Linked DNA regions of Homo sapiens: all the other regions are linked to region 2. Evidence: fine-mapped expression QTL. A gene starts in region 2. Each other region holds a variant in brackets. All regions are shown on one strand. Distances are from middle to middle.

Evidence for each region. PIP is the estimated chance that this variant, and not a neighbour inherited with it, causes the effect.
Region 1: its variant is fine-mapped to the expression of BMP2 in whole blood (TOPMed, PIP above 0.99).
Region 3: its variant is fine-mapped to the expression of BMP2 in whole blood (TOPMed, PIP above 0.99).
Region 4: its variant is fine-mapped to the expression of BMP2 in whole blood (TOPMed, PIP 0.93).
Region 5: its variant is fine-mapped to the expression of BMP2 in whole blood (INTERVAL, PIP above 0.99).

The regions. Positions count from the first base shown.
Region 1 is chr20:7,748,555-7,754,824 of GRCh38, forward strand. No RefSeq gene overlaps it. Among named protein-coding and RNA genes, the nearest start is that of HAO1, 190 kb to the right of the region's middle. The variant C/T (reference allele first, on the strand shown) is at 3,453.
Region 2 is chr20:6,764,880-6,771,149 of GRCh38, forward strand. It overlaps BMP2 (bone morphogenetic protein 2), which reads left to right and starts at 2,807. Exons shown (of 3, transcript NM_001200.4): 1 at 2,807-3,996; 2 at 5,241-5,593. The coding sequence starts at 5,248. It overlaps LOC105372517 (a long non-coding RNA gene), which reads right to left and starts at 2,605. Exons shown (of 4, transcript XR_937229.2): 1 at 2,442-2,605; 2 at 1,521-1,926; 3 at 973-1,129; 4 at 714-790. RefSeq lists promoters at 1-3,861, 2,671-3,312, 2,702-3,861, cis regulatory regions at 1,775-2,565, 2,572-2,671, 3,312-3,486 and silencers at 2,751-2,800, 2,891-2,940.
Region 3 is chr20:6,881,560-6,887,829 of GRCh38, forward strand. No RefSeq gene overlaps it. Among named protein-coding and RNA genes, the nearest start is that of BMP2, 120 kb to the left of the region's middle. The variant A/G (reference allele first, on the strand shown) is at 3,452.
Region 4 is chr20:6,952,744-6,959,013 of GRCh38, forward strand. No RefSeq gene overlaps it. Among named protein-coding and RNA genes, the nearest start is that of BMP2, 190 kb to the left of the region's middle. The variant C/T (reference allele first, on the strand shown) is at 3,455.
Region 5 is chr20:6,858,570-6,864,839 of GRCh38, forward strand. No RefSeq gene overlaps it. Among named protein-coding and RNA genes, the nearest start is that of BMP2, 94 kb to the left of the region's middle. The variant A/T (reference allele first, on the strand shown) is at 2,574.

The DNA of each region.
Region 1 (6,270 bases), 980 kb after region 2:
TTGTGGAATCCATGTTGCTCTCTCTACCTTGAGATATGTTTGAATATTTCCATATTATACAATTCAAAATGCACACAGTATGTATATATATTTGCATCTGTGTGAGTCCATCTGTTATAACTGATTTTTTAATTCACTATCAAACTACTAGGTCATATAAGAAGGAATCCAGTGTATAACCCCCTTTCCTGAATGCTGATCTCCAAGGCAAGGCCCAGTGAGGAGAGTTTATGGATTCTCCTGCCTGAGCAAATTGTCTCCAGTCTCTTTACCAACCTCCAGCCAACAAAGGGCATGTGTTGGACATTGGCCACCTTAACTTCATTTCAATGTGACAAAGTTTGTTACAAACAAGATTGATTTGAATGTGGCTGTTAATAAATCACAGGCTGCCAATAATTACTTTTGATACTTCCAGATTTTTTTGAAACTCTATTTCTGCTTTTGATGTCATTTAGTGTAGGTAGAAGCTCTATTTGAATTCTTCTTGCACTTCAAATTCTGATAGACTTATACATTTTAATGTAGAGGAGTTAAGCTACCCATTCATTTAAGAAAATGATCCATTTGGTCTCTCTAATACCCACAAATAATTACCATTAGAAAACTATAACAATGAAATCACAGAGTTAGAATAACACCATGCAAATCCCAAAGAACTGAGGTATTAATATGAGAAATAAATAGCTACAATCTGAAATAATAAATCAATAAGATAAACGAACTATATCACCTGTATACAATATGTCTTAATAAATAATGTTATTGGAAAGAAAATGTATTGGCTGTCCAGAGATGGGACTTTAAGCTCTTCTCTTCCATATCTTTGATCTTTGTCAAAGCAATTTACTTCCTTTTGATTCCATTTCTTTATCTCCAAAATTAGCAATGTCATATGGGAGACTGGGATGGGGATATTTTTAAGTATAATTTTTATATGCAGAAAAGATTATTCAGAGGCTCATTTTGCATTCAACCAAGTAATACTGAATTTACTAATACGAAAACTTCAAGAATCTAGTTTATAAGTTATTTTGTGTTTAGCTTGAAAATCCTATTCTCTAGCAGTGTTTAAAAGTGATTGCTTTTAAAGGACCTTTAAATAATAGTTTTTATAAATAAATGTATTAAAATATCTTAAGCATTTTAACTACATTTTAAATATTTAGTTATTTAATTTTTACATATTTCAGTTAACCTCTAATTTATATAAATTTTATAAATTAAATTAAAATTTTGGTGAAACATTGATACTCTTAAATATTCCAATTCTATAAACAAAAAATTTAAATGATTGTTCAATTATAAATTTTAAAACTGGACTTCTTCTGTGCTCTACTAGGTTAAATACTCTTAAATATTAGAAAATTATAAAATACTAACCTAACACAGATTTCTTAATGAGATAATATTAATATTATGGTTTTAAATTTCCTAAACACTTCCCTAATTTTCTAAATCTCATTGAGGTTAAAAGTTACCTACTAAATGAGGAAGAGTGTCCCCATCCCAGTTAAATGACACTGTTTCCCATCAAAGATTTAAACCAAGTATAGTATTTGGAATTACATAAACTATTATATTATGCCATATAATTTTGGTTGATGCCTCTCCAGTATTGTTTAGGGTAATAAGGACATGGAGTTTTTGTTCAACAAGTTGGCCGGATTCTTACTGTAGACATGAATGGATGCTCTAAACTCAGTCTATAGTTGCTATATAAATTAACCCACAATTACATGAAGGAGTGGCCACTAGTCCAATAAATTTCTGGATTCACAATATATAACAAAGTCTGCAACTTCAACATGAGGTGATCTCATTTAAATTTTGCCATTTCTTTGCCTCTTAAGGAGTATACATGTCTTCTCCCTGGGCATAAAGAGCTCTAAACATGGTGAAATCCAACAGTTCTATCACACCTTATTCTTGGGACTGCACAACCATTATAGATTTTAAGTTACATCTTATTAAACTCTAAATGTCTGTAAGGACTTTATTTGACAATTCAATGATAATTTACATGGTTATTCCACTAACAAGAGTATAGACTCATCACTAATCTGAAGTTAAATAAAGTTGTACTATATCTAGATCTTCTAGAATGAATATATTTCTGCTATGTGACCTTAACAGTGCTGCCCACTTGAATTTATTTGGGTGCAGATAGTCATTAGTATGATGACATCTATAGGTATTTCTCTAAGTAAGCTCTGAAATCCTCCCACTGAAATACCAATATGTCAGCCAAATTCTCAATCTGCCTGCCGCACTCAACAATTGTACCCTGGGCACAGACTTAAATATTGAGGAATCTAAATGCAATGATTATAATGACTCTTTTTAGTATCCTCTGTTTAGAGTTCACGTTTGGAAAATTAGGGTACCTTTAAGTATTCTGACAATGGTACATTATCTCCAGACCTTAGAGGGAGAGACATATCTTCGTTTTCTTGGTTATACAATAACATATTTTTAAAATAATTTTTAAAAGGAAATTAATGTAGCATATATGTTTATGCAAACAGCATTATTTTTAAATATGCTTATAAAAACATATGGAGATTTTTGAGAAGCAGGGGTCATCTGGTCCCACCTTCTCTTCTAAAACTGGGAAGGCATGTTGCCTCCCAAGCAAGCAGACTCTGAGCTTGACTTCAGTGTTTCTGTAGGAAGAAAATGTGGTTCATCTCTGTGGCTGTTTCTGAGAACGGAGGTGCTGAGTGTTTGAGGAGCTGAAAGAACAGGTCACGCTGGAACCAAACTAAATACAAACCTTAAAACAATGAGCCTCTGTCTGAATGCAGGTCTTCTGGCTCCCAGAGTGACACCTTAGCCAACCCATGTTCTGTGACTGTCCTGAGTTGCAGGGCTGAGGCAAGGAAATCATATCCACACTCACAGTTCTCTAGTTCATTCTCTCTCTCTCTCTCTGTCTCACCCTGTCTCTCTCTCTCTCTCTCTCTCTCTCTCTCTCTCTCTGTCTCCTTCTCTCTCTCTTCCCACTAGAATATACACAAGAAACCGATACTCTTAACACTGGATTATGACTGGGAGTCAAGACATGACCCCTGACCTTGCACACCAGGTAGCTTGAGCTTTGTTGTTTTTCATCCTTATACTAGAAGATTTCCCTTGTCAAGATTTCCATTTCTTTCCCTTGTCAAGATTTCCATTTCTTTCCCTTGTTGGGAGAAATTATCCACAATGTACGAGCAGGTAAATGGATTATTGCATGTTCATTGTTTACCAGCCCACCCAAGGATTATTTCATTCTCTAGGCCAGGAGTCAAGACACTTTTCCTGCAAAGGGTCATATGGTACACATTTTAGGCTCTGAGAACCATATATTCTGTCATGAGTATTCAGCTCTACCTTTGTAGCACAAAATCAGCCATAGGAAACAAACAAATGGGTGTAGCTTTGTCCCAAAGGAACTTTATTTAGAAAAC[C/T]AAGTGGCCAGTGGATTTTGGTCTACTGTAATTTGTCAACATTTGCTCTCCTCTAGGAAAATAAACCTTACTTGATTTGCTATTTGTACTTGATCAGGGCCCAGCCTCTGTGAGTTTACCAGTTACCTTAATTAAAATATTGATCCTATAGAAGTGCAAATTACTTTTTTTCTGATTGAATTGACAGTCCCAAAGGTTATGATTTTATTGCCTAATAGCTCTTTAAACTGTTTTGTCTCTAACTTCAAAAGTAAAATTTTATTTTAATATGTCTTTCCTGATAGACTATATACACTCTTAATCCTCAAAGGCCCTTTGAACCAGGTATGTCATATTTCTGGATGAGTTATATAAGTGAACTATTGTTAATTTATACTAGTTCACTAGTATAAACTAGTGAACTAGTTAATAAGAACTGCACTATATCCTATATTTATATAAGAATCATAGTTTTATCTTTCTGACAACTAAATATTAACAATCTGGATTTGAGGCAAACACACCAGCATTCTATACATGATACCAAGAACAAATATCACAAGCACCTAGGAGGGAAAAAGGCAGGCATGTCGTGTGAAGCCCCTCCCTTCTCTTACCAGATAAGCTCATGAGTTTTCTATGAGATGACATTGGTCTTTTCTAGATTCCTGATGCCAACTCCTGGGAATTCCTATGTCTTTAGAAACAGTGGCTAGAAAAACACAGTTTCACAGAGGTAAAATGAGGCAATTCATCAATAAAAATGAGGTAATTCACTAATATAAAGCTCTGAGGTATTTATTTTTCAGCTCTGCTATTTTACAGTAACTACTGCTTGTAGCAAAGATAATTCCTCAAAATCCTTTCCTTTTATGCACTCCATTCACATATAGGAGAGTTCGTTGAAGTGAAGGAATGATGGGCTCAATTAAGAAAAGGGACATATGCCAGTCATCTGAAATCTTTCTAGTTTGAAACAGAAAATAACGTTATTTTGATGATTGCTTTAAAAATGAGAAGAAATTTAATATAAAAATTAACTCTGAATTAGCCCTGAGTTTTACACACCATCAAGGTCAGATTAATTTTAGGGAGCATTCCAAAGCTGCACTAGTACACTGCTATCCTTTCTCAAGTGTGTAACTTCAAAAGCTCACTTCTGGTTCATGCTATGTCTCAAGCATCATTTCTACAGAGATAACTTCCCAACTCTATTTCTAGGCTACATTATTCTTCCAGGCATCAGTCTTCCGTTTGCAGAAGACTGACCATCTCTCTTTTCCTCCAAGCTTATTCTTCTTCCTGTCTTGTCCATACTATGGTACTCCCATCAGATGGCCTTCTTTGCTCAAAACCTTTAAAACTTATTTGACATTTCCCTTCACCTTACCACCATCCCTAACATCCATTCAGCAGCTGGATCCCATCAGTGCTCCTCCACCCTCACCCACAGTTCACTAGCACAGGTTACCTTAGCTTCACTTTCTTTCAGCTGCTCAATGCCTGGTCGGCTCCTTTCTCAGAGCCCCACTCACTCCATTAATAGAACAGGCAGACACAGACTACTTTTTTTTTAACACACATTTCCTGGTGCTTCCATTCCTTACCCCAATCAAAAAATGTTGACTGTTTCTTATTACTAGGCAAGTAAAATACAAATCCAAGACCCTACCTGACCTCCATACCAATATTGCCATCACTGATTCATTTCAACTGCTCCTAAGTCCTTGTTCACTCCTTTCTGCCTCCCTGAAATATATTTTACTGCAGCCTTCCCTTGCACTACTATGTTTTTACAGGTCCCAACCTTGTCTAAAGGTCTTTCCAATTACCCCAAATAACATTTGCCTCCTGCAACATCCATCATCTTTCACTGGTTCTCTCCCACATTCTTAAACTTCTTAAGAATGGGTAGGCATGAATGTGTATGGTAATAAAATGACAGTTTTCAGTTTGCACCCCAGCACTGACATTTGTCACCTCTGTGACTTTTACCAACTGACTACATGTCTCTGTGCCTCAATTTTTCTATTATCTGTAAAAACAGGACAAAAGCCTTCACCTCTCCAGACTCATGTAGATATAAATGAGTGAAACTGATCCACAACAAATATCATTTATGTGGATCTTATAACACTACGTCTTGAATATCTGAGTTTGCCTTTTGGTTAAACTTATTTCATAGAGACCTGGAGAAGGATTCCTTGTGGTTGTCCAACATTCTTCTTTTGGTAACAGCCTTCTGGAGAATTATTTCCTCTCATTAGGTCCAAGCTGGTGAAGCTGTAAATCAAGGTGCCTGGCCTTCCTTGCCAACTTTGTGGACACATTGCTTAAGCTGGACATATTGGACTTTCTGTCCTGGGACTTTGTACTGTGAGCTGAGTAATGAAAAGTTGAAAAAAAAAATTGGGATATCTGTATTCCAACATTTTAGTCCCAACAACTCAGTTGCACAGTTGCTCTTACTGAGATTACTAGAATGCCTGGTTCTATCCTTTCTAGTGTTTCTTTTCATTCCCTTCATGCTCATGTCTTCCCACACAGTCCCCCAACCCCTCCTATAATTTTTTTTCTGCTTGAGTTAGTGAAATTTAATTCCGTTGCTTACAACCAAAGAACCCTAACCAAGTATGTCATCTACCAAAATGGAGACAGCCAAAGCCCAATGTCTAGCACTTAAAATTCTCAGTAAATCTTTGTGATATAAAAAAAAATTATTGTCCGGGCGCAGTGGCTCACGCCTGTAATCCCAGCACTTTGGGAAGCTGAGGCAGGCAGATCACGAGGTCAGGAGATCGAGACCATCCTGGCTAACGTGGTGAAACCCCGTCTCTAC
Region 2 (6,270 bases):
GGGATCACTATTTTAATGTTGATTTGCATAATGTTTGGCCTAGCAAGAACAATACTGAATGCTAATAGCTACAGAATGCAATAAAATGGAATATCATGTGAGCTGAAGTGCTAAAATTGCTAAAGTATGACTGTAAGCAGTTAATTTCATCCCGAGTCTTGTCCACACACAATCAAATGCAAATTTCCACTATCTCCTGAGAAACTGCCAAGAGATGACTGAAATGGAATAGCAACAACCTCCTTTATGTGGAATCATTATCTGGTCATCTTTGCTTTTTTACATAACTTGTCTGTACCCTCTGATGCATTTGAATTTGCAACTTCTACTATCCCTATCTTAAACAACTCCCCACTCCCACCTCTGCCCCTTCCACATTTGCTGGCAGATGCACTAAGTCTGATAAACTCAGCAAGACTGAATCTCACCCTCTGAACTGAAAAACTTTGAATGGACCTTTGAAAACGGTAGAATTGACAATGGTTAGCTGCAAGTGATATTTTCAAGGCAAACAGACACTCTCCCAAAGTATTAAATAACCCAGCATTCTAAGTTGCAGGTGGAAGGTAGCCATTAGTGAAGAGAGAGAAAAAAAAAAGAAATAGCTCGTCTGTATTTAGATTTATCATTTCTGACTATTGCTCTTCCCTGGAAAACGGGTAGGTACAGTCATCCTGTACTTCGATCCCAAATCAGTCTCTGGAGACTACTTATTTATTTATTTATTTATTTATGGACTTCTTTCTTTCAAGCGTTCGAACTCATTTCCACCACAAGAGGGCAGCCATCTCTAAAAAAAAAAAAATAGGGCCAAAATTTATGTAAGTTGTGCTTGGAACAAGCATTCAGTAGTTCCTCAGAAATCATACACCCTACATAAAAGAGATTCTGCAATGGGCAGCACTAACATGAAACAGTGTTCAGAAGTACCCATTTTCCCTCAGATTCTAAACTGACAAGGTTTCCACTTACCAGGTTATGAAGTTCTAAAGCTGCAAGACATCCTTGAGGTCATCACAGGATATTTATTTATTTTTTCTTCGGGTGCATCCAATAGTTATCAACTTTTCCTCCTCTTTAAAAGCTACTTAAATCTCATTGAAGTTTTGTTTTGTTTTGTTTTTGAAATCTAAGTAATGAGAGAAACAATTGTTAACTTCTCAATTAAACTTGATAGGAAAGGAAATAATTTCAGAAGCCCTGTGTCCATGAGTAGGATATGTTTTATTGCCTCCTTGTTTGCGGTGCAATGACTCTGAGTGACAATCAACTTCTATAGCACCTTTTTTTTTTTTTTCAGGAAATAAAGTAGCATGTTCCTGAATAATTCCCCCACCCCCTTTTATTTTCCTGGTAGTCAGGCTTCCTCCAAAATACCTTATTTGACCTTTATACCTTTAGAAACAGCAAGTGCCTAATTCGCCTCTGTGGGTTGCTAATCCGATTTACGTGAGCGGAACCTAGTATTATTTTAGCTCCCCTACCGAAAAAATAATACACATGGATAATAGTTCTATTACCAGCTCCTGCTTCTGACTTTTTTCTCTCTGTTTCGCAGGCCCGATAGCTCTGGGAAAGCAGAACTTGGCCTTTTCCAAAAATTTTCTGCCCTTGGTTTTGGGGATCATTTGGGCAAGCCCGAGGTGCTGTGCATGGGGGCTCCTGGAATCCTGGGAAGGGCAGAAAGCCTTGGCCCCAGACTCATCGTGCAGCAGCTCTGAGCAGTATTTCGGCTGAGGAGTGACTTCAGTGAATATTCAGCTGAGGAGTGACTTGGCCACGTGTCACAGCCCTACTTCTTGGGGGCCTGGTGGAAGAGGGTGGCGTAGAAGGTTCCAAGGTCCCAAACTGGAATTGTCCTGTATGCTTGGTTCACACAGTGCGTTATTTTACCTTCCTCTGAGCTGCTAATCGCCTGCCTCTGAGCTGGGTGAGATAAATATCACAAGGCACAAAGTGATTGTACAATAAAAAAATCAAATCCCTCCCATCCATCCTTCAGTCTGCCACACACGCAGTCTACGTTACACACATGTCACGTAAAGCAGGATGACATCCATGTCACATACATAGACATATTAACCGAAATGTGGCCCTTCGGTTGCATATATTCTCATACATGAATATATTTATAGAAATATATGCACATATTTTTGTATATTGGATATATTTATGTAACTATAAATTTACATGCGTATGGATATGAAAATAAATGCATACACATTTATGTAAAAAAATTTGTACACATGCATTTACATATGTAAATACATACATCTCTATGTATTAATGTTTAAAAACACTCAATTTCCAGCCTGCTGTTTTCTTTTAATTTTCCTCCTATTCCGGGGAAACAGAAGCGTGGATCCCACGTCTATGCTATGCCAAAATACGCTGTAATTGAGGTGTTTTGTTTTGTTTTGTTTTTTGAAATCGTATATTACCGAAAAACTTCAAACTGAAAGTTGAATAACGGGCCCAGCGGGGAAATAAGAGGCCAGACCCTGACCCTGCATTTGTCCTGGATTTCGCCTCCAGAGTCCCCGCGAGGGTCCGGCGCGCCAGCTGATCTCTCCTTTGAGAGCAGGGAGTGGAGGCGCGAGCGCCCCCCTTGGCGGCCGCGCGCCCCCGCCCTCCGCCCCACCCCGCCGCGGCTGCCCGGGCGCGCCGTCCACACCCCTGCGCGCAGCTCCCGCCCGCTCGGGGATCCCCGGCGAGCCGCGCCGCGAAGGGGGAGGTGTTCGGCCGCGGCCGGGAGGGAGCCGGCAGGCGGCGTCCCCTTTAAAAGCCGCGAGCGCCGCGCCACGGCGCCGCCGCCGCCGTCGCCGCCGCCGGAGTCCTCGCCCCGCCGCGCTGCGCCCGGCTCGCGCTGCGCTAGTCGCTCCGCTTCCCACACCCCGCCGGGGACTGGCAGCCGCCGCCGCACATCTGCCGCCACAGCCTCCGCCGGCTACCCGAACGTTCTCGGGGCCAGCGCCGAGTGGATCACCGGGGACCGCGAGGCACCCGCGCGCCGCAGACCCCGCGCGGGCTGGAGCACCCGGCAGAGCGCGCCACAGCGCCGTGGCCTCTGCTGCCCGGGCTGCGCCAGAGCCGCGGACGGGCGCGCAGAGCGCCGGGGACTCCGGAGCCGATCCCTAGCGCCGCGATGCGGAGCACCTACTGCAGGAGATCGGGGGCCTGGGACGCGCTGGCCGAGGTGTGATCGGACCCCAGGCTAGCCACAAAGGGCACTTGGCCCCAGGGCTAGGAGAGCGAGGGGAGAGCACAGCCACCCGCCTCGGCGGCCCGGGACTCGGCTCGACTCGCCGGAGAATGCGCCCGAGGACGACGGGGCGCCAGAGCCGCGGTGCTTTCAACTGGCGAGCGCGAATGGGGGTGCACTGGAGTAAGGCAGAGTGATGCGGGGGGGCAACTCGCCTGGCACCGAGATCGCCGCCGTGCCCTTCCCTGGACCCGGCGTCGCCCAGGATGGCTGCCCCGAGCCATGGGCCGCGGCGGAGCTAGCGCGGAGCGCCCGACCCTCGACCCCCGAGTCCCGGAGCCGGCCCCGCGCGGGGCCACGCGTCCCTCGGGCGCTGGTTCCTAAGGAGGACGACAGCACCAGCTTCTCCTTTCTCCCTTCCCTTCCCTGCCCCGCACTCCTCCCCCTGCTCGCTGTTGTTGTGTGTCAGCACTTGGCTGGGGACTTCTTGAACTTGCAGGGAGAATAACTTGCGCACCCCACTTTGCGCCGGTGCCTTTGCCCCAGCGGAGCCTGCTTCGCCATCTCCGAGCCCCACCGCCCCTCCACTCCTCGGCCTTGCCCGACACTGAGACGCTGTTCCCAGCGTGAAAAGAGAGACTGCGCGGCCGGCACCCGGGAGAAGGAGGAGGCAAAGAAAAGGAACGGACATTCGGTCCTTGCGCCAGGTCCTTTGACCAGAGTTTTTCCATGTGGACGCTCTTTCAATGGACGTGTCCCCGCGTGCTTCTTAGACGGACTGCGGTCTCCTAAAGGTAGAGGACGCGGGCCAGGGCCCGGGGTGGGTGGTGGGTGGGAGGGGGATTTGGGCAGCCACTGCGGTAGAGCCCTTCCTTACGTCCAGGCCAGAAGTAAACAGACCCCTCTCCAGTCCACGTGCAACGGAGCCCTGCAGGGGCTCCCACTTCCAGCTGCCCCGGGCGACCGTAAGCCTCACCCTCCCGGCCCGCACTCTTCCACCCCTCTTTCTTCCCCTCTCCCTGGAATACTTTTGGAGCTGTTAACACTTAGATGAGGTGTTTTATTTATTTATTTATTTATTTTTAATTTTTTTAAAAACTTTTTTGGGTCAAAGAAATCCCTTTGAGAGGGTAGCCCCTGGGTTTCACCCGTTAGCTGAGAACCTGTCCGCTCTGCCATGGTGATCTCCATTCTTCAAGTGTTTCCGGGAGACTTGGTTTCTTTGCTCAGAGCCGTGTCCCATTTAGGAAAGTACTAGGAGTTTGGGGTTCTCCCTACTTGTTTCCAGAAATGCGAGGGGTCAGTACTGAAGGATCACTTGGTACTGTGTTTTTAACAGCTGACACGTGCATTAATAGATATTCACCATTTACGTAATCCCGGGAAGATACATGTGTATCTTGACTGCACTGTGGGGATGCGGGATGGAGCTGCCTTTCGAGACACCCCTGAGGGTAGGGGCCTGGGACACAAGTCATAAGTGGCTTCAGAAGTTGTGGCCTTGAGCTTACAGGGTCTGGAAGCTATAAGGGTGTGTGTGTGTGTGTGTGTGTGTGTGTGTGTGTGTCAGGAAGTTCTATACAGTGCCTCTAAGGAAGTCACATGCACCATTTATGTGTGTTTATATGCCAGACAGCGCTCAGCACTCCGCATTTGGGTTTGTATAGGGGACGCAGGGTGTCAGATCAAGCGGTGGTTTTCCCAGGTTCCCGGCATTGGCTGTCAGCGCTGTGTCACACACAAAAAAGTGACAGTCATTGGCGCTGGTTTGGTTGGGGGGGAGGGCAAATCCCAAATCTGATGTCAGACGAGCTAAGCGTTGGATGGGAGCGATAAATCATCTGGTTCAGGAACTTGGGACCCTTCATTATCCCAAACGTTTGAGCTTCGGTCGGTCTTACCTAGACTCGTGAGTGTGCCAAGCCAGGAGGGCATCCTGGAGGAGGCACGCCAGCCAAATGGGAGACCGGGCCGCGGGGGCGCGAGGGGGGAGGACTGGGCGGGGAACTCGGGTGACTCACGTCGGTCCTGTCCGCAGGTCGACCATGGTGGCCGGGACCCGCTGTCTTCTAGCGTTGCTGCTTCCCCAGGTCCTCCTGGGCGGCGCGGCTGGCCTCGTTCCGGAGCTGGGCCGCAGGAAGTTCGCGGCGGCGTCGTCGGGCCGCCCCTCATCCCAGCCCTCTGACGAGGTCCTGAGCGAGTTCGAGTTGCGGCTGCTCAGCATGTTCGGCCTGAAACAGAGACCCACCCCCAGCAGGGACGCCGTGGTGCCCCCCTACATGCTAGACCTGTATCGCAGGCACTCAGGTCAGCCGGGCTCACCCGCCCCAGACCACCGGTTGGAGAGGGCAGCCAGCCGAGCCAACACTGTGCGCAGCTTCCACCATGAAGGTGAGGCATGGAGCAGGGCGTGGGGGCGGGGAGTCACCCTGCAAAGCCCTCCACCGTGGGCAGACTGCAGCCGTCCCTGTAGAGGCAGCTTGGCCGGGGCACCAGCGGACGTTTCCACTCTTGCTTCTGTACTATCGTTTCTGAATCTGATTTTAACTCACTGCTTGTGTGGTGGGGGAGCCAGGGATTCCCCTTTAGTAACTCCGCACCCTCTTCCTGGCTTGCAGCCAGAAGAGCTACTCCTCCTGGAAGAATTGGAGAGAAATCAAGTGATGGGGAAGATGAGGGCAAAAGGCATGCCTCTAGTCAGCTAAACGTGCAAGAATTCCACAGAGGGAAAAGGAGAAAAAGGGAGGCAGATTGAGATTTCTTTAAGTCTGTTTGGAAGCTTTTGCTCTATAAATCTGCCGCTTAAGCCAGGGTTTTAGGGTAGACAGAGCCAAGGGCAGAGTTTTCAGAGATAGTATTGAAAAATCAAAGCCCAGGGCCCCAAAGTCTTTCTAATTTATAGTTGATCTGGGCCTGGTTTGGAAGATTTTGAATCCCAATCTAATCCCCGTGGGAGATCAATACTACAATCAATCTTATTGTTTCCACAATGACTTTCTTGTCCTGTGCTTAAATCTGAGATAGGCTCTGAGTAGAGACAAGGCAAGCCTTCAGATAAAAGCGTTTGT
Region 3 (6,270 bases), 120 kb after region 2:
GCTGCCATGGACCAGGCTAAGGATGGAGATTCTGCAGACATAGTGCCATCTCCTTCTCCTCAGGCCACTGGCCTATGCAGGCCTCCATACTTCAGTCAGCTCCTGGATGCCTTCCTTCTCTGCAGCTTAAGGGCCACCTTCATAAACTGATTGAGGTCCAGAGCCAAGGAAGAAGCTACCTAACCCTTCAGGTCACTTCTCTGTGTATGATGAGGGCTTAGTAAAAATTAATGCTTCCAAGAACTACAGTCATTTTTATTTCATCTTAGCAAGAGAGATCTCATGCCTCTATTTGGTTCTTTAATGGGTGAGGGATTTGGGCCTAGAAAATGAGGGGAAATTGAGAAGAATACTCTTAAACCTCCCAGCAAGAGAAGAAATGTCTTGCTGGGATCATACCTATTCCAAAAGATGGAAGTATTGCAGCGAGTTCTCTTCCTCTCTTACTCCATCTCCTGTTCTTCACTGAGGGAAGTGGGACCATATTGACTTTCCTGCTGAGGCAATACCCCCTAGGATATAAGCAGAACCCTCAGGAGGAACTCAAACTTTTTCCCCTTTGTCTTTGGCCTTCTTTAGAGTAGCCTTTTTTATGTAACAAGATTTCCCTGCAATTTAGACCACCATTGCCTTAAGGAGTGAGGCTAAAAGCTGCTGTTTACTTTTCTAGGCATCAGGGTGAAATAATTCCTGTGTAGTTTAGATTTCCCCAAGCACTACATTATTGTGTTATACTACTGAAAATTAGCCTCTATATCTTTATTATGGTATACGACCTTGCTGGCAGAAAAAACACTGGTGACATTATAGATCCTTAATTATATAGATCCTTAATTAATCCTTATAGATTCTTTATTCATAGTTGAATGAAATGAAAATGGAACTATTTTGCCATCTCTGGTTAGATCTCTTAAATTGGCTTTGGAATTTGTTGGCTTGGCCTCTGAAGAACAAAGAGTTGGGAACGTTTGACCTTGCCTGCGATTAACTTTCTCAGTGCATGGAATTTAGAGCCAGACTGGGCTTCTTTCTGCAGTCCCTTTAGTCAGTTCACAGGCCAGTGGAAGCACTAGTTTTTCAAGGAAAAGCCAACTCTTGACATAGCAAGATCAGAGCTAGAATCCTAGGAAGCATGCTTGGCTGTACACGATCCCTCTAATTTCAAAGCAAAGCAATGTAAGGAGACAGCTTGGTAGTTGTTTTATTTTCTCTAGAGTGGACTTATGTTGTCAGTGGCAGAAATCCATGAACCATGAAGATAAAATAATGCTAACCAGAGTGCTAAGTAAAGAAAACAAAGATGGCTCCACAATTAGTAGCATTATATATGTTAGTGCTAAGTAACAACAGATGTGTCTGCAGGGAGAGAAGCATTCCTTGCAATCCATCAGAAACCAAAGTTCTCTGACACCACAAGCCATTATGATTATCTTAGGCTTGGGGGATGATGGCTGAGTCCACTGGGTTGGCAAAGTAGGGATGCTGTTGAGGGTGTTCCAACCTACCTATGTCATCCTTCCCATGTTGCACACTTGTGCTGAGTTAACAGGGCGATGTGCTCTGTAAAATCCGGTTCTGTAAAGACATGCACTAGCCATGAGTCATTAGCAAGCATGCGAAGCTAATTGGCAAAATACTCATAAAATATTTTGAAGGTGGGTTAATTACAATTCATTACACAGTAAACTGTCCCCAGGCTATTGTTAAAAAGTACAGGAGTTTCAGGGCCCATTATTTTATGATTCATTTTGCCATGTTGTGAAAAACAGACTCTAAATCAAACTACATTTATTATAGGTCAGACCACAAAATCTTTATTGGTTTTTCCAACATTCCACCCTTGTTATATGAATTCATATGGACTGCACATTTCTGTCAATTGGCAAGAAAGCATGAAATAAAATTTATGATATTTTCTTACCTTATCCTCAGTGTAGCCTTAAAAATCACAAGATCTAATTGCTTCCCCTACTTCCCCAAGTTCATGCAAGAAATAAGTATTTCAAAATCAACTCCAAAGTTCTAATGATTGAAAGCAACTAAAGCATAATGAAATCTGTCTTCTAAAGTAAGCATCTTAAAGAAAAACTCAAAGCAACATCCACTTGAAATGTGTTGAAGCTTTTTTCCCGCTCTACCCAGTAAAATATCTAGAATATACTTTACATTTGGAGGATAATTTGAAGTTCATTGGCTCCATAACACAAATCTTGTTCTCCTCATCTCTACCTTTGAAAGCATCTTTCTTTTTTTTTTTTTTTTGAACCAAAGCAAGCCCTCAGCATTTATTTCTTGAAAAAACAAAACAAAACAAAAACCCTCTGGTACAGTTGTGTGCCTCCTGTTATTACCATAGGCAGATTTGGTCAGAATCATGTAAGGCCTCATAAGTAGTCATTCTGTACCATTACATGTAATTGTTTGTTGATTAATGCTTTCAATTATGTTGATTTTCACTATGTGACCCAAACCACCTTGACATAGCCAGCCTGGTATACTCATTACCGGGGATGAGCAAGGAACAAAATGCTAGGTTCACTTCCAGCCTCCAAGAGTTCAGCAGCTCATTTGAACCTTATCTGAACTATCAAAAGTTTTGACTCTGCAGAAACCTGTGTTTGGGGAAGGGGCAGGAATGTGTGGCTCAAGAAAGGCTTTAGGATGAAGTGGGGGTTGTGGGGGGAGATGTTGGAAATTGTGCAAAAACTAGTTTCCTTGTGAGTGATCAGGTACTTCCTGATTCTGGCTGGGCCAGAAATACCACAAAAGCCTTTCTTGAAATTTCTGAGATCTTTGGAAGGTCTTCCTCCAAGCAGTTTGCCAGTTCTGCATGCCTGGGTTTTGGCTAGGGCTGGAGACCAAAGTATGTGCAAGAGGAAACCGTTTAATAGAAAGTTACCTGTATACTTAAGAATTGTCAAAAGAGTTTTACCTCTACTAGAATAAAGCCTGAATGGTTTGATCAGTGTCAATGATCTTAACCACTCCCATTCCTCATAGAAAGATGAAGCTGAAAGATGACATTGGAAATTGCTAATGCAACCCACTTATTTTATAGGGGCAGTCAGGATATCCATAGAAACTATTGACTGGGTCTATACACATGTGGACCAGAGTGAGAACTAAAGAGCCAGTAGAGGAACAAAAGAGGAAGAAAGGGGAGCCAAGCTGTTGAAAAGCTTGAGTTCTGTCTTTACTCTGCCATATTAGTGGTGTGATCTTAGGCAAGTCACTCCAATTCTCTGATCCTCTCTGGATCATTTCAACCACAAAATACTAAATTAAATGTTGTTGTAGGATGAAAGTACTAAGAAAGGGTGATTTGGAAGCCAGACCAAGCTGGATGAAAAGAGTGTCAAATTGGGAAGAGAAAGAATGGCAGCTAGGAAATGCTGGTGAGTTGGAGAGAAAACATTGAGTGGAAACAAAAGAAACTTGATGGGAAATGACT[A/G]TTTTGCATTGAGTAACAACAGACAATCATAACATAACTTGAGGAGAAAGTAAAGTTGTTTGATGCAATTTTAAAAGATGTCAAAATAGCCTTAAGTTTTATGAAATAAACGAATATTCCAAAGAGGCAAGCATGAAAGGAAGAAGTGTTCAAATATGGGAGACACTAGGTCGGGCGCGGTGGCTCACGCCTGTAATCCCAACACTTTGGGAGGCCGAGGCGGGCAGATCATGAGGTCAGGAGATGGAGACCATCCTGGCCAATATGGTGAAACCCCATCTCTACCAAAAATACAAAAAATTAGCTGGGCGTAGTGGCGGGTGCCTGTAGTCCCAGCTACTCGGGAGGCTGAGGCAGGAGAATGGCGTGAACCCAGGAGGCGGAGTTTGCAGTGAGCAGAGATTGCGCCACTGCACTCCAGCCTGGGCGACAGAGCGAGACTCCGTCTCAAAAAAAAAAAAAAAAAAAAAAAAAAAAGGGAGACACTAGGACAAATTAGTTTCCTAAATCATGCTTCACGGGACTAAGGGCCAGAGCACAGAATACCCCACTACTTCTTCCTCAACCAGAGCAGTTGCCAGTTTATCTCTTCCAAGCAAGCTTTTGTTTAAAGAACGTTTTCTGAAGCTAAGGAAAAAAATTTCTAATTGCTAACCTTGCAAGAAATCAAAAAAACGAGTGGTACTTTAATGAGTTCATTTATTGTGACACCTTTAACAGATACAACTGCAGGCCCTTGAGTGAATGAAGATCTGAAGTGGCTGTTCTGTGTAAAATACACGTGGATTTTGCAATGTGGCCATTCTAATTGGCAGGTAACTTCAACATCAGAAATCTCCAAGCTGGGCTCTCTGAGGAGAGCGGGACTAGCTCTCTTATAGGCACCAACATTGCAGTTTGGATTATGGTTTTTTGACGAAGGGTATTCAGTGTGTCAGAGGGAAGGAAGTCCAGGGCCAGGGTCAGCCATCTTTCCTTCTGCCCGCAGTAATGTTGACCTCTCGAGGAATTGATGACAGTGGAAGAGTTCGGGAAAGGAAAGGGTGGTCAGTAGCTCCAGAGTATAAACATTGGGAACAGGTTTGAGAAGAATGCTCAGGAAAATAGAAACAACTAACCAGCAACTAAACAACTAAATTGCCTGACAGGGAATCATGGAAGCTAATCAATGCAAAATTGGTGGTCAGGTAGGGGCGGGCAATGTTGACATTGAAGTCTTGTGGACAGGCTTCCTGTGTTGATTTAGTAACCACACAATGGGTAAGGGAGAGGGGATCTCTGATCATAGCACCACTAATACTAGGATGCTTCTCTTTGACAGGCATAGGGTATTTTTTTTCTTTTAAGCATTAAGTAAGTGAGAAGATCACCTTCCTTTCTTTCTCTTTTGCCCTAAGGGCCTGCCCATTTCCAGCTGCGTAATTACCTCCTTCATAAGCCTTTACTCTGAGGCATGAAGGCTCTAGCCAGTACCCTGACTAACTCCCTGCTGGGGATGCCTCCGCTGAACAGAGCAGAGAGACCTGCTGATTTCAGAGCCAAGCGCAGAAAGCAGCTGGCTCTTAACTTGTTGTTTAAGAGAGCCAAGCAGAACAGAGCTGACGATTGCCTGGCCAGTGGGAGCCTGAGCCAGGCACCTGTCAAATCCTGCTTTGCTGGGTTCTCCTGCACCCTGCTCTGCAGTGCGCTTTTCCGAGACTGGCGGTCCACACCCCACAGGCTTTCTCCCTCTACAGCCAACCAGCTGCCAGCACCCCTGTAAATTCTTTCTCCAGCTAATATTTTGATCCCTAAGCAAGTTTCTCTCTCTTTTACTGGCAGGAAAAAAAAATGTCAAAAAGGGAAAATGATGATGTCTCTATTTTCTTCTGATAGCAGGCTACCAAACACTCCCAGCATATCCATTCTTTCGCTTTGGGAAAGAGGGAAGGCAAAGTGGTCTTGACGGTGTGTGTGCAAGGAGAGACATTCGAATGTGTATTTTTACCTGTCATTTGGGTCTTGAGAAGGTTGAAGTCTGCATATGGAAAAACTGGCCCTTTCTCTTCTCAGTTCTGAGTTTTAGAGTTAGTAAACTATGTAAATTATTTTATTTCTCTGTGCTCTGCATCCAGGCTGATGTCCTGGAGAGAGGGCTTTGAAAAACTGCCCCTGAAGCTATTGGCATTAACTGAAATTGATGTTTCACAGGACTGGGATAAAGAGGGTTATCAGTAGCTCAGGCCTGGCCTGCCTTGGGGACCACTGCCCACTGGATTACCTATTGGCTTAGGGCATAGGCACTGGCTTAGGAATTAAAAGTACTAAGTTCCAGACAAGCTCTGTTTGTGAAATCACTTAGGCCTCCAGCAAGCTTTAGCTTTTCCAAGGTTTTAGTGCTCTCATTTGTAGAATGAGACGGTCAGTTAGACATCACCTCCAAAACGTTACGAGTTTCATGAATCTGGCTGCACTTACTTTGTGGAGCCATCAGCCCTAACCTGAAGCCTGGGAAACAAGTAAACGTGTTTCAAGTTTCTTAAAAGTTGCTTTCTCAAGTTACTTCCTTTCTTCACACAAGAAATGAAAGGGAAACACTGCTGCAAAGAGCCCTGGAAACAGGTCCTGATTTTAGAAGAGAGCCTTGAGATGACAGGGGCATGGATGTCCTGCACATTCCTTCAGCATAACCGCAGAAAGCCTGCATATATTTTTCGTTGTTTGTAATTGCAAACTTTTCTAAAAATCTACCCTTTAGAAATGATTGCCTTTCTCTGAGGATCAGATCACAGTCCAGCCAATTCTCAGAGAAAATTAAACAAAGAATACTGAGCCTGGAA
Region 4 (6,270 bases), 190 kb after region 2:
CAGCCTGACCAACATGGCGAAACTTCGTCTCTACTAAAAATACAAAAATTAGCTGGGTGTGGTGGCTCACTTCTGTAATCCCAGCTACTCGGGAGGCTGAGGCAGGAGAATCCCTTGAACCAAGAGGCGGAGGTTGCAGTGAGCCGAGATCATGCCACTGGACTCCAGCCTGGGCGACAAGAGTGAAACTCTGTCTTAAAAAAAAAGAATTTAAACCACCAAATACCAAATATAGAGGGAATGAAAAAAATTAAAAAGTCATCATCAAGCAATCACAAATAATAATTATCTCAGGCAAGAACCATTGATGGATGCTAAGATGTATGGAGGAAAAAGGACTAGAAACAAGATAGTTGCATAGTCTCAAAGTATCTGCCCACAAGATACTTATTAATTATAAAGGAAAAAGGAGTAATTTTAGAGCAGAGAAATCCAGTAGACACCATAGTAAAACAAAATGATCCAGGTTTACATCACCAGTCATAAGATGTGTTGACATCACCTACCTCTAGTATGAAGCACAGAGAAGGGCACCATATCACATTTGTGCTATTCTTGACAAAAGTGCATAACAGCAGTCTAATCACAGGGAAAACAAAATAAAACCAAACCTAAAGATAAACTATAAAATAATTACTTAAAAACACCAAAAATCATAAAAAATAAGGAAAGATGGAGCAACTGGCACAAACCTGAAAATATGAAGGAGACATGAAGAACCTTAGCGGAAAACTGGGGAAATTTGAATAAATTCTTCTAATTAGTTAATATTTTTAACCATATCAATTTCCTTATTTTGATGATTAAATTCTAAAGTTATAAATTGTTCAAGATTTAGGAAATCTGTATGAATGGTATGTAAGAACTATCTGTACTATTTTTGTAACTTTTAAATTATTGAAATTAAATATTTGAAATAATAAAATTATTTCAAAATAAAAAGTAGGAAATCATACTTAAATCAATCAGACTCTTGGAAGTTGGTCTTAGAATAAGCTGAAAAATGTTGGGAAAGGAATTACTGAAGAGAAATGATAATAATAGGAAGTCAGAAAAAATTGTATAGTTAGCATTTTTTAAAAATGTAAAAATTGAAATGATGTTTCAAATCTTAGGGGACAATAATTGATATACTTAAATGAAAACAGGTGGACAAAGAGAAAGACAAAATACTAAAATACCCAGCACTCAATTTGAAAAGATATAAAAAGTATGTGTAAGTGTGACTGATTTGAAAGATCAAGTTCAGCTGGGCTAAATAAATTCGTTTCTATATTTTCCAAAATGCAATCTTATCTCTCTTATTGAAGTAAACCTAAAGCTAAATAAAAATAAAGACGAGTGTGTGTTTGATAAAATTCCAGAAAGGTTGCTGGAGCCCAGAAACCATGTGATATTCTAAAGATGTCAGAATTTGGCCCTCAAGGATGGCAGTTGGTTATGAATGTCAACCTTTAACTCTGGGGCTATCACTAGATCCCCAAGTAAGATTTTGCTGTTTAAAATTTTTTCATTCTTCTGTTGCCTCCCAATTGTATGGGCAAAGCAGGTTTTATCACACTTTGTAAGTTCATCACATGTAATTTTATTTCTGCCACGCTAGATTAAATTTAAGGGTCACTGAAGTCAGGAGCCACTGACCTTTGCCCTGTTAATGGTTCTCACCATTAATACTTGACCCTAAAAGCTATGTATACAATAAACCATATTTATAGGGTGGAGGGAAGGGAAGAGCAGAAACAAAGTGAATGGAGTGATTATTTGTTTTGCCATGCTGTGCAGAGATTAGGAATGTTCACACAGTCTATACGGATGGCCTGGGACTGGCTGCCTTTTATGGTGTCTGAACAAAACATGAGGATGGAATCACATGTGAGGGTAATACTCACAATGAGATCCTAGCGTATCTCAATTGCTCCGGTATTGCTGACACTTCACCTTCATCACGCTTTAACCAGAGCTCTTGTACTCTGGTTTTCTTTGGCTGTAAAAGAAGAAAAATAAAGGACACATATTATATTTAAGATTATCCTTGGCAGAAGGGAAAAAAATCGTCAAACAATTTATGTTCAGCAATTAGAATTGTGAAAGCTCTGAGAAACTGATTTTGGGATTTTGTGAAATCTCTTTCATTACTCCACCTGATTGAAAGAGAACCAACAGAAAAGTCTTTATGAATTATTATCTCCAGCATTCTGTTCCTGTAAACTTTACAGGCTTTTGTACACTCAGTTACTTCTGGGGTTAGTTTTCTCTTCCTTAACATTTGGGCAAAATGAGTGAATTTGTTTGCTGCTTTTGCTTTCTTTCTTTTACTTTTTAACGTGTCCAGTATCCAGAATGTTTAATTATTTGCACAATCAATTAAAAGCCATTTGTTTTTTATTGGTAAGCAACAGCATCTAGGCTGGAGAAAGGGATTCACTTCCTGGGAACAGGGCTTTCAGGTCATTCTGTCTGCCCATCAATTCTTGGATTAACAGGAAACATTGCTTTCAATGACCCATGTGTATGTGTGCATGTGTGTGTACGTGCACATGTGAAATAGTGCAATATTAAGAGTTGCTAAAATACACATGCAAATATTGCAAAAGAGCCCCAAGTTTATTATTGATTTTCTCACAGGAAGAACCATTATAACTTTTTAGGGAGTAACTAGGCAAAATCTTTTCTGAAGCTTAGGATATAATTATTTTGGCAATATATAGCCATCCCAAAAAAATGCCTAGTGATTAAGGCAAAGAAATTCTCTTGGTCACAGATTGAGGGAGAGTCTTGGGCTTATAAAATATTCTATTTCCTCCATTAATTGTGTCCATGTGGAGTTGTAACCAAGTAGCTGAAACAAATAAAACTTGAGTAATATTGTTTCCTTTTAAAATATTTTACTTAATGTGTGGAAGAGGTTTGAACTCATTAAACATGCACTGTTCCTTTTGCTCAAACCCCCAACCCCACCCCCCCTCAAAGAATACCCCTACTCCAAGTCAGTCCTCCTGAAACGTTCCAGCAATGCCTATAGCACCACTGTCTCCCCTTCCCTGGGAGGCAGGCTCCTTTAGCCACTCTCTAATTTGAGGTGTACGTGGAAAGGAAAGCAGAGAATGTAGTTAGCCTGGGGCCCTGCAAACCTCTTCTCTTTGACTTGGCCTGGAACTGAAGCTAAATAGTCCATTTTGTTTTACTGTAGTTTCCATGATAATTCTAATTTGTTATACTTCTGAAAACTTTGGTGAGAATTCCTGGTATTTTAAGAAGGATTCTTCTTGTGAAAGAATGAGGTGGTTTTATGAGAGAGGGTACATTTTCCCTACGCACTGAAGCTGGGAGTCAGTGGATTTGGACAGGAATAGCCAGGTGGCAAAAAGAAAGGAGAAACTGGAAAGAGAGAATGTGTGTGTGAGTGGAGAGTTGAACTTCTTTTTCTTGTGCTGGCTTATCACATCTGTCCATT[C/T]CTCAGGCTGCAAAACTCACCAGAGTTAACAGAGAAGCCTTCTCTTAGGCAAGTTCCCTCAAGTTACGTAAGATAGAGCAAAGCTTTTTATTTACTTCCCCCTGTTCTTTCCCTTATTGTGAAAGAAGCTACAGGAATGGATAGTTCTTATTCTCCTTAATGTAGACACAAAAAGCCATGGGGAGATAGAACAGGATTTAGACCATTTTTAGTAAATTATTTTCTCCCATGATTGTCTACATATACAGTCAAGAATATCTGGGGTATTTGGGCAATGATATTTAGAGAAAGCAAGCTAAGAAATCTGCATATGACAGAATTACCTTTGGATCTTATAAATTCTAAATGGGGATTGTTTTAAAACATATTCCTTAAATATCAACAGACGTATTTTGAGATCCTCGAAATATCAACATAGTGATGGGTTCATTCATCTTTTCCTTCAGTGCGTGGTGGGTGGGTGAGATCATTCCCCTGCTAGTCTTCTCTTTTAGGGATCAACACATCAAGGGCTTCCTCCAAACACCTTCTGCAGAGAGTCAGGGCTTTGAATTTAATGAGTCAGACTTTTCCTGTTAGGCTGAGTCAAACTTTATTTTCGTCTGTCACCACTGGGAAGTGTAGAGCTATGATACAGTCCTTCAGGTTTACCTCTTCGAGTTTAAGGATGCATGAAAAATGAGAAAGGCTATTAACTTTCAATATGATTCATTTCTGGATGCTTTTCAATCTCTCTCTCTCTCTCTCTTTTCCTCTCTTTTCATGTACTGTGGGGGAAGAATGCAGCTATAAATGTGTTATAGACAGTACATAGTGAATGAACCTATTCTTAGGGTATAATTTTCCCTCTTCGTGGTAACACTATAATTTAAATGTACAGAGAACAAGCAAGTAGACTATGTGAGGTAGATCAAGATTTCTTTATTCAGTGAAGAGCTGAACTTCCCAATTAGAAGTATCCTGGCCAATGATATGGCCAGAATGTAATAAAAAGATTTTACGAATTGGAAGATATTATTTTTACTATTTCAAAAGGAATCTTTAATAGAACTACTGATTATTTTATTAATTTTTATTGTAGTGAAATATATATAACATAAAATGTATCACTTTTACCACTTTTAAGCGTACACTTCAGTAGCATTAAAACACATTCACAGTGTTGTTCAGCTGTCACTACTATTCTTTTCCAGAACTTTTTATTATTTCCAAACAGAGACTTGCTATGTATTAAGCAATAAGTCCTATTCTTCCCTTCCTTCAGCCCTTTGCAATCACAGCGCTAATTTCTGTCTCTGTGAATTTGACTATTTTAGGTTCCTCATATAAGTCAATTCACAAAATATTTCTCCTTTTATGTATGGCTTATTTCACTTAGCATAATGTTTTCAAGGTTCATTCATTCTCTAGCATTCTGCACCATGTGTCAGAATTTCATTCCTGTTCATGGCTGAATAATATTCCATTGTATGAATATACCCCTGGATTTTTTCAAAAACATATTCATCTGTTGACGGACAGTTGAGTTGTTATCATTTTTGACTATTATGAATAATGCTGCTATGAGCATTGACATGCAAGCATCCATTTGAATCTTTACTCTCAATTGTTTTGCATACATATCCACAAGTAGAATTAGTCTATTATATGGTAAGTTTGTGTTTAAATTTTTGAGGAACTACCAAACTGTGTTTTACAGTGGTAGCATTATTTTACATTTCTATCAACAGTGCACAAATGTTCCAATTTCTTTACATTCTTGTCCACACTTGTCTGGTTCTGCTTTTATAATGCCCACCCTCATGGATATGAAGGGCATCTCATTGTGGGTTTTGGTTTGCATGTTCATAAAAGTTAGTGAGGTTAAGCATCTTTTCATGTGCTTATCAACTATTTGTACATTTTCCTTGGATAAATGTGTATTCATTTCTTTTGCCAATTTTTGAATTGGGCTTTGTTGTTGTTATTCAATTTTATGCGTTCTTTATAAAATATATTCTGACCTTTCTACTTCTTTTCAGTCAGATGTTTGCATGCTACATCAAAATGAATTCTCTTACATGAATTATTTTACTATATTATTATGTCATTTTATATATGTGTGTATGTATAAGAGTAGATAATTTCATGTATATAGTGTGTGTCTTATGTATATGCATGTGTGTGTTCATAAATTTTAGGAAATTAAGTTAAAATTTTTTTTGTTTTATTTAGCCATCCTCAATCAGAGACACTAAAATAATAGTATATAAACAACAAAAAGTAAGTAGTTCCTCTTGAGTTATTTAATTCTTGGTCATTTCTAATATGTTTCAAAGTGAAATAAGCAGTAATTTGTATTAACTTTAATGTAAATCTGACTTAATAGTTAAGATCTTGGTTTCTGGGGGTAGCCTGCCTGGGTTGGAATAACATTCTGTCACTTACTGTCTTGTTTAGTCTCTCTAAGCCTCACCTTCCTCATATGAAAGTTGAGATAATAGTAGTTACATAGGACTATTGTGGGAATTAAATGAAGAAACCTAGTGAAGTGATCTCTGCGGGTCTTACCTCAGAACCCACTTGGTGCTAGAGAATCCTTTAATAACAGAGGAAGTTCATAACCCCTAGAGATGCTTTCCTAGACCTGCAGGTAGAAGCCGTGGCATGGATTTTACCACTGTATTGCAGGGTAATCATCAGAATTCCTCCGAGGTAAAGAAATGAACAAGAAATTCTTATGGCTTGAGAGCCCAAGTACATTTTAAAATGAGGAAATGCCAACTCAGGGTTATTAAAATGTGGTATATTTTAAATGCCTGTGTCTAACAAATAAA
Region 5 (6,270 bases), 94 kb after region 2:
TGCAGTCACTGGATTCCTGGCAGCTGAAATTTCTATCTGAATTTTGGTCAGTGTTGCTTATAGGGCTTATGATAGCCTGCAGCTTGTATGGTGTATGCCAATCTGTTCCCTTCTTTCCACAGACCTGGGACCACAGCTTCGGCATGAAATTTTTTGGGGGTATGCTCAGAATGTGGTTTGTAAGCTCATCTTTATTACAAAGAGGTAGGGAGAGAATGATGTACTGGACACAAAAGCAAGAGAGTTTATCAGGATGCATTTTGCTTATAAATAAGAGATGACCAATTCAAGCTGGCTTAAACAATATGGGGTTGTGTCAGTTTTCACATCTGGAAGGTTTATAAGCTTCAAGCTTGGTTTGTTCAGGGTTCAGGATTCTCTTCTCAGTCTCTCAGTTCAGCCCTGTTTTGTGTGCTTTTGTGTTCATGGCACCAAATCCACACCCTGCATCACTCAGAGAATGAGTCCCCGTTCCAGAATCCTCAGGGAATCCCCAGAAGTCACTCTGGCCATATTGACTTCAGCCACACATTCATGCTTGCATCAATCCTGGTCAGAGCAATAGAGAGACAGTATCTTCTTTACCCCCAGAGTCTGCACTTCCAGGCACTTCCACGGGAAGGGAGGTGTGGAATGAATGCAAGACAGATCTCCCTGGAACCCGCTGCAAAAAATGAGTGTGGGATGGAAAAAGAGAGCACCAAAGGACAGTGTGACAATAAAAAGTCTAATTTTATTCTGCAGCTAGTTCAGGCAATACCAAAAGTGGATCTGAGGTGGTATAATTGAATTAAGTCAAAGTGGTTCTATCAAACAATAAGATGTTTGTGCCATCAGCTATAGACTGTGAGTTCTTGGATGTGGCAGTTTATTTTTCTGAGTCTCAGTTTTTTCAGTTGTAAGATAATAATTACTGTTGTGTAGGGTTTTATTGATGATTAATAAATATAGTGTTTTATAAAGTCCCTACTGTAATATCTGGCAAAAAAAAAAATAGGCACAAAGTGAATGGTAGAATTAATCATCAAAATGACAATTTATTGCTATCATTTTTAGTACATTTTGGGTACTCCCAAAGTGCTAGTTACTATATTTTAGAGTTGTTTTGATAAATATAAAAGATAGTGTCTCTAAACAATGTAGAATAAGTGGGTAGAAAATTAATGTTAGAATTAATAACAATATATTCTATTTAATATTACATAACATGTAGTTAGTATTTATGCATAATAATTTATTGTTAATTTCACATTTTATATAATTCCAAGGTGCTAATTTGAAGAACAATGCTTCCCTAAATATTTAAATTTAATGATGGTAGCTTATAAGGTTTGTCTTCTTACTATGTGGTTCTATATCACAGTCATTGCAAAAGGACAATAAATTAACAGTGCTTTAGTGATGGTTATAATTCACTATTACTACTTGTCAATAGTTATTAATAAAAGGTTAACTCTTCATATGTGTTCATTTGTTTACAGTGCTGTATACTTCCTGCCTTTTGATACTAAACACCTTGTGAATACAATGATCTAACTTTTGGGAAAGCAAAGTACAGATGGCCATAACTGGATTCTGGGGATGGGGTCTACCCCTGGCAATGCCTTGCCTGCTTGTACTTTCAGTTATGTTCTAAAGGGCTTATCTTCAGCAATCTTATTCCTATAAGCTGCTTTTAAAAACTTAGAGATGTCAGGCAGTGGGTCAGATGAGAGCTGTGCAGCATGGCAGTATTTAGAGTATTTCTGTTTTGAATTGTTTTGTACCACTCAAAACTTCAATATATTTCTCACATCATAGCCTTCCACAGTCACATATGCAAATTCATATTCATAATCAAACTTGTGGATTATTCATCTCTGACACTATTATTAATTCCTATGGCATTCTTATTTTTAGTTCCAAGTGTTCTCTTACTTAAAAGCCTTTGTTGTCATCAATTGTTAATTTTAGCATTATAATCCGTGTGATTGTTTCTCTAGTATTTCCTAAGCATTTTTTCTGGGTTCTTGTTCACCTTTCAACCCTTTTAATACATCCCAGAACACTTAAACTTTTGCTTAAGTCTCAAAAGCACATACAATTATTTGACCAAATAAGTACATGATTAGAAATTCATAGGTCTCTTAAAAATATTTTATGTCCTATATTAAATGTCAAATAAGAGATAGAAGTTTGTGATTAGATAATATTAGAAACTTGGACTTACTTTTATAAGTTAAGTAAACTAATGTTCAGATGCATACAATTCTTACTAAATACCCCTACCTGTAACTTTTAAGCATTGCCATTTATCAATTAACAGTTATTTTATTAAGCAATCATTGTATGCCTGGATATTCGTTTGCTGACATCTTCATGTGCAAATCATTCCTTCTAAATCTTAAGAATACACACATAAGTGATATATTCCCCTTATATGTTATAGATGACATGAGGAATGATTTGCATTTAGGATGCATGATCAAGTGCATTAGCTCTTCTTGCAATTTGGTCACCAGTGAAAAGAAATTTGGGGAATTTTGACACTGGGATGTAATAAAATGGGTTATCAAAAGACATGCTTTTTTTTA[A/T]AAAAAAAGAAAATATTTTAGAATGAGGTATGCCTTACTTACAAAACGAATGAGGTATGCCCTATTTACAAAACATCAGTTTAATTCCAAGATGAAAGCATTAAAAGATAGGGAGAAAAAAACCACCCTTGTGCTGATGAAATGGTGGCTCCAGAAGGCATAAGGGCTATCTTAAGACAGTAACGTGACCAACTACAAATTATTTACAATCAGAAAAAAGGGAATAACAGAGGAGGCACTACTGGATCAAGGCCTCCAAACTCATTTAGTAGGATTAGGTTTTTTCCTTAAAAAACCTAATTGATTTTTTACAATCCTTAAAAAATAAAGCAAATGGGACAATACATAACCTGGATAAAGATTATATGAGCGTATTTTTATTCTTGCAACTTTTCTATAAGCTTAAACTTATCTTTAAGTAAAAGTTTTAAAATATCCCAAATGATAAAAGAGAAGCTCGATCACAAGTAATCTATTTTAAAACCAGAAGATTTGTCTATGCATTTTATTTCATATCTATTTTCAAGATAGAAGGCATTGCTCTCCTGAGCCACACATGGAAAAGAAAGGGAATTTTACCATGTGGAAATTTTACCTCCCTTGGTAAATTTTATATTTTGGTGGGTTTAGGAATTCATGAGAAATGTGCCCTGGCTGTTGCAGTTTTTGTATATTTATGCCATCTGGATCAAAGACAGCTCAGACTCTCACCTGTATTGGGCAAACACTGCTACATGAAACTCAATCCACTGTAATTCATTCTCTTGAAATCTTTATAAAGAAGTTGCAAGGGAAATGCATGGATAATTACTGTTTATGCTCAAGGACCAAATTTACCCCTTTCATTGGGTTTGAAGGAGATGGTAATGAGCTTCTTTTGTGGCCCTGCCATTCACCAGATGACAAGCTCTTTTAAACTGAAGCCTGGTTTAATTCCTTCTCGCAGAATAGCATTTTAGCAAACTTGACAGCAGGATTTTATTTATTTATTGGTAAAAGTATTATGTACAATTAGTTTAAAAAATCTAACTGTAGAGAAAGCTACAAGATGAGAAATAGCAATACTCCCCGCGCTCCTAACTCCATAGTCACTGTTAAATATTTCTTGTATACTCCTGGGAGTAGTGAGTATACACTTTCACCCATATGCATACTTTAAAAAAATACAAATAATGATTTACACTTTACAGTAACATATTTTTTCCAAATAGTGATACATCTTACTTTCCCCCTCTTAATAATACGTCTAGAACACGTTTCTTCTAGGTTGAACCATATGAAATTACTGTTTTGCTAGTTTGACCTAATATCTCAGGACATGGGTATAGCCCATTCTTTAGACCATGCTGTAGATTTTTCTTGTACAGATACACAGATATCTATCAGTCCCATATTGCTAGACATTTAGTTTGCTTACAATTTTTTCTGTTACATATAATGCTAAAATGATCACTGTTTACATATATCTTGGGGGATACTTTCATGACTATGTGTTAAATTCTTAGTAGAAAAATTTCTAGGTGGAAGAGAACATATATTTTTAACTCTCAATTTTGTCAAATTGACCTCCAAAAATGTTAATGTTTACAGGGGCCCCAGTTATGCAGAACACTGTGGCATCTCAGAAATTTTAATTTTTGACAATCTTTTTGGTGAACATTTTTATTTTTATTTCGTTGTTTTGATTGACATTTTAAAAATGGTTTTGAACATCATCTTATAAGCTTATTTGCTTTTTGCATTTATTTTCCTGCAAAAGTTGTCTTTTTCATATCTTTTAAAGATCATTCTTTTAATTCAGTATCATTAATTTGTGGGCGTGATGTTTAAGTTCAAAAAATTTGCTATTTGTCAAGTATTTTGCAGTAATCAAATGAGTGGAAAGTATGAGGAAAGTTAAGGAGGAAATAGTAATTTTGAGACTATGCTACATTCCACATACAGGCTTTTTTTTTTTTTACAATTTGATTTCATTGATTTTTTTCTTTGTTATTGGACTTATTAATTTTTTGTGGCTTCTGTATTCTGTCTGACTTGGAATGACGTTTCTAATATATCTGGGTTTTCTTGTTTACTTTCAAAGAAGCACATAGATTCCTGCTTTTCTGGAAAATTTCTGATTATAAATGTTTGTAATATTTGTACAATATTATCGGACTATGCTACCAGAATTTGATTTCAAAAATAAGATAGCTACAGTAACTCTAGTTACCACAACATAGCTATGTCATGGTCTACATTAATTAGACATCCTTTAAAACTGTTTGTACTCATTCCTCCACCTTCCTGTTCTGTGCTCTCAAAACAACTTTCCAATCATTCCTTCAGTGTTCAGGAAGGTGATGCTCCAGAGAAGGAATGCAGTTAGAAAGCCCCCTGTAAATGATCAATTTGTGTTCTAGTGCAAAGCACTGTTTTCTGAAAGCTGGGTTTCCCCTCAACATTCCAGACTTGCTCAGATGAGACCTCACTCACTGTGGAAGCCGGAGTTAAAAGTGACTTGGAATTATAGGTTAAGGAAAGAGGTAGATCCTTTTTCTATCTTAAGTTTCCATCTGAAGGATAGTCCTGATACTTGTTCCACGTAAGCCAAAAAAAGAGTCTCCAGGTAACAAGATCTTCCCTGGGACAAGCGAAAGTTAAGGCAACAAAGCATGAGGTTTTGGTTGTTGTTTTTGTGAGTTTTCTGTTTGTTTGCTGGCTTGTTTTTTCCAAGGGTTCATTGGCTCTAGGCAGCCCAGCTTTCATTTAAGGAAAGGTTCGTGGGCGTCTTGTGGCCTCCACTCCACATGCCTCTGCACTATGTCTATGACTTGCAAAAACAACCGTGTGGGATGCTAATTCAGTCTTTGGTTTCTTTTTCATATCAAATACTGCCAACTTGGCCTTAAATATGTGCCAGATGCACGATGGTTTTATGATGTGATACCGTTAGGAAGTCTGGGCTGAGTATAGCTGGATGTGAGCTGGCTTCTGCTACTGGAGCGGTTCCTGCCGCTGATGACTCCAGCACAAGCTTGAGAGCTTGATGGCTTTGCTGGGTACCTTGGCAAATAGTGCCTGGCAGTGGATGGTCATTGAGTCCCTGGTGAGAACTGCAGGTTCTCTTTTCTCTGATGTCCAGATTTCTGAGTCCTATGAGAACTTGCATGGTGCTTTTCTGGGAAAGGAATGAAAAGCCTCACCATCGTGTAGCACACAGTGTCAAAATCTTGTCACAAATATCCCAGGTACTACCTCCTGATATGCATACCTAGGGCACTCTTGCCTTTCCAATTAATATTTTAAGGAAGTTTTCATTGATGATGGGCCCAGAAACTCAAACATATTTAACTTTGAGTTAAAATTAAACACCAAAGGAATGAGAGAGATACCCAGTTGAAAAAATAACTGGAAAGTTTAGGGAGATTATTTGATCTAAAATGACTCCTTTGGAGAGTAAAACCTATGGTCAGAGTTCTCAGTTCTTATGTACAAATTTTACAAGGGACGTAGTCCAAGCACTGTAAGTGCACATTATTTTTATTTGTGTATGTTTTCTCTTTTGTTTTTATTGCCTGCAATCAGGTGAAACAATGGTGGCAGTTCAGTGCTTTATTTCTGACTTTGACCAAACACAATCTCTTTTATGCCAAACTGTGATCAGAGATTTATTACCAAGCAGTGTGAAAAAATTGGACACTTAGAAAACGAATCG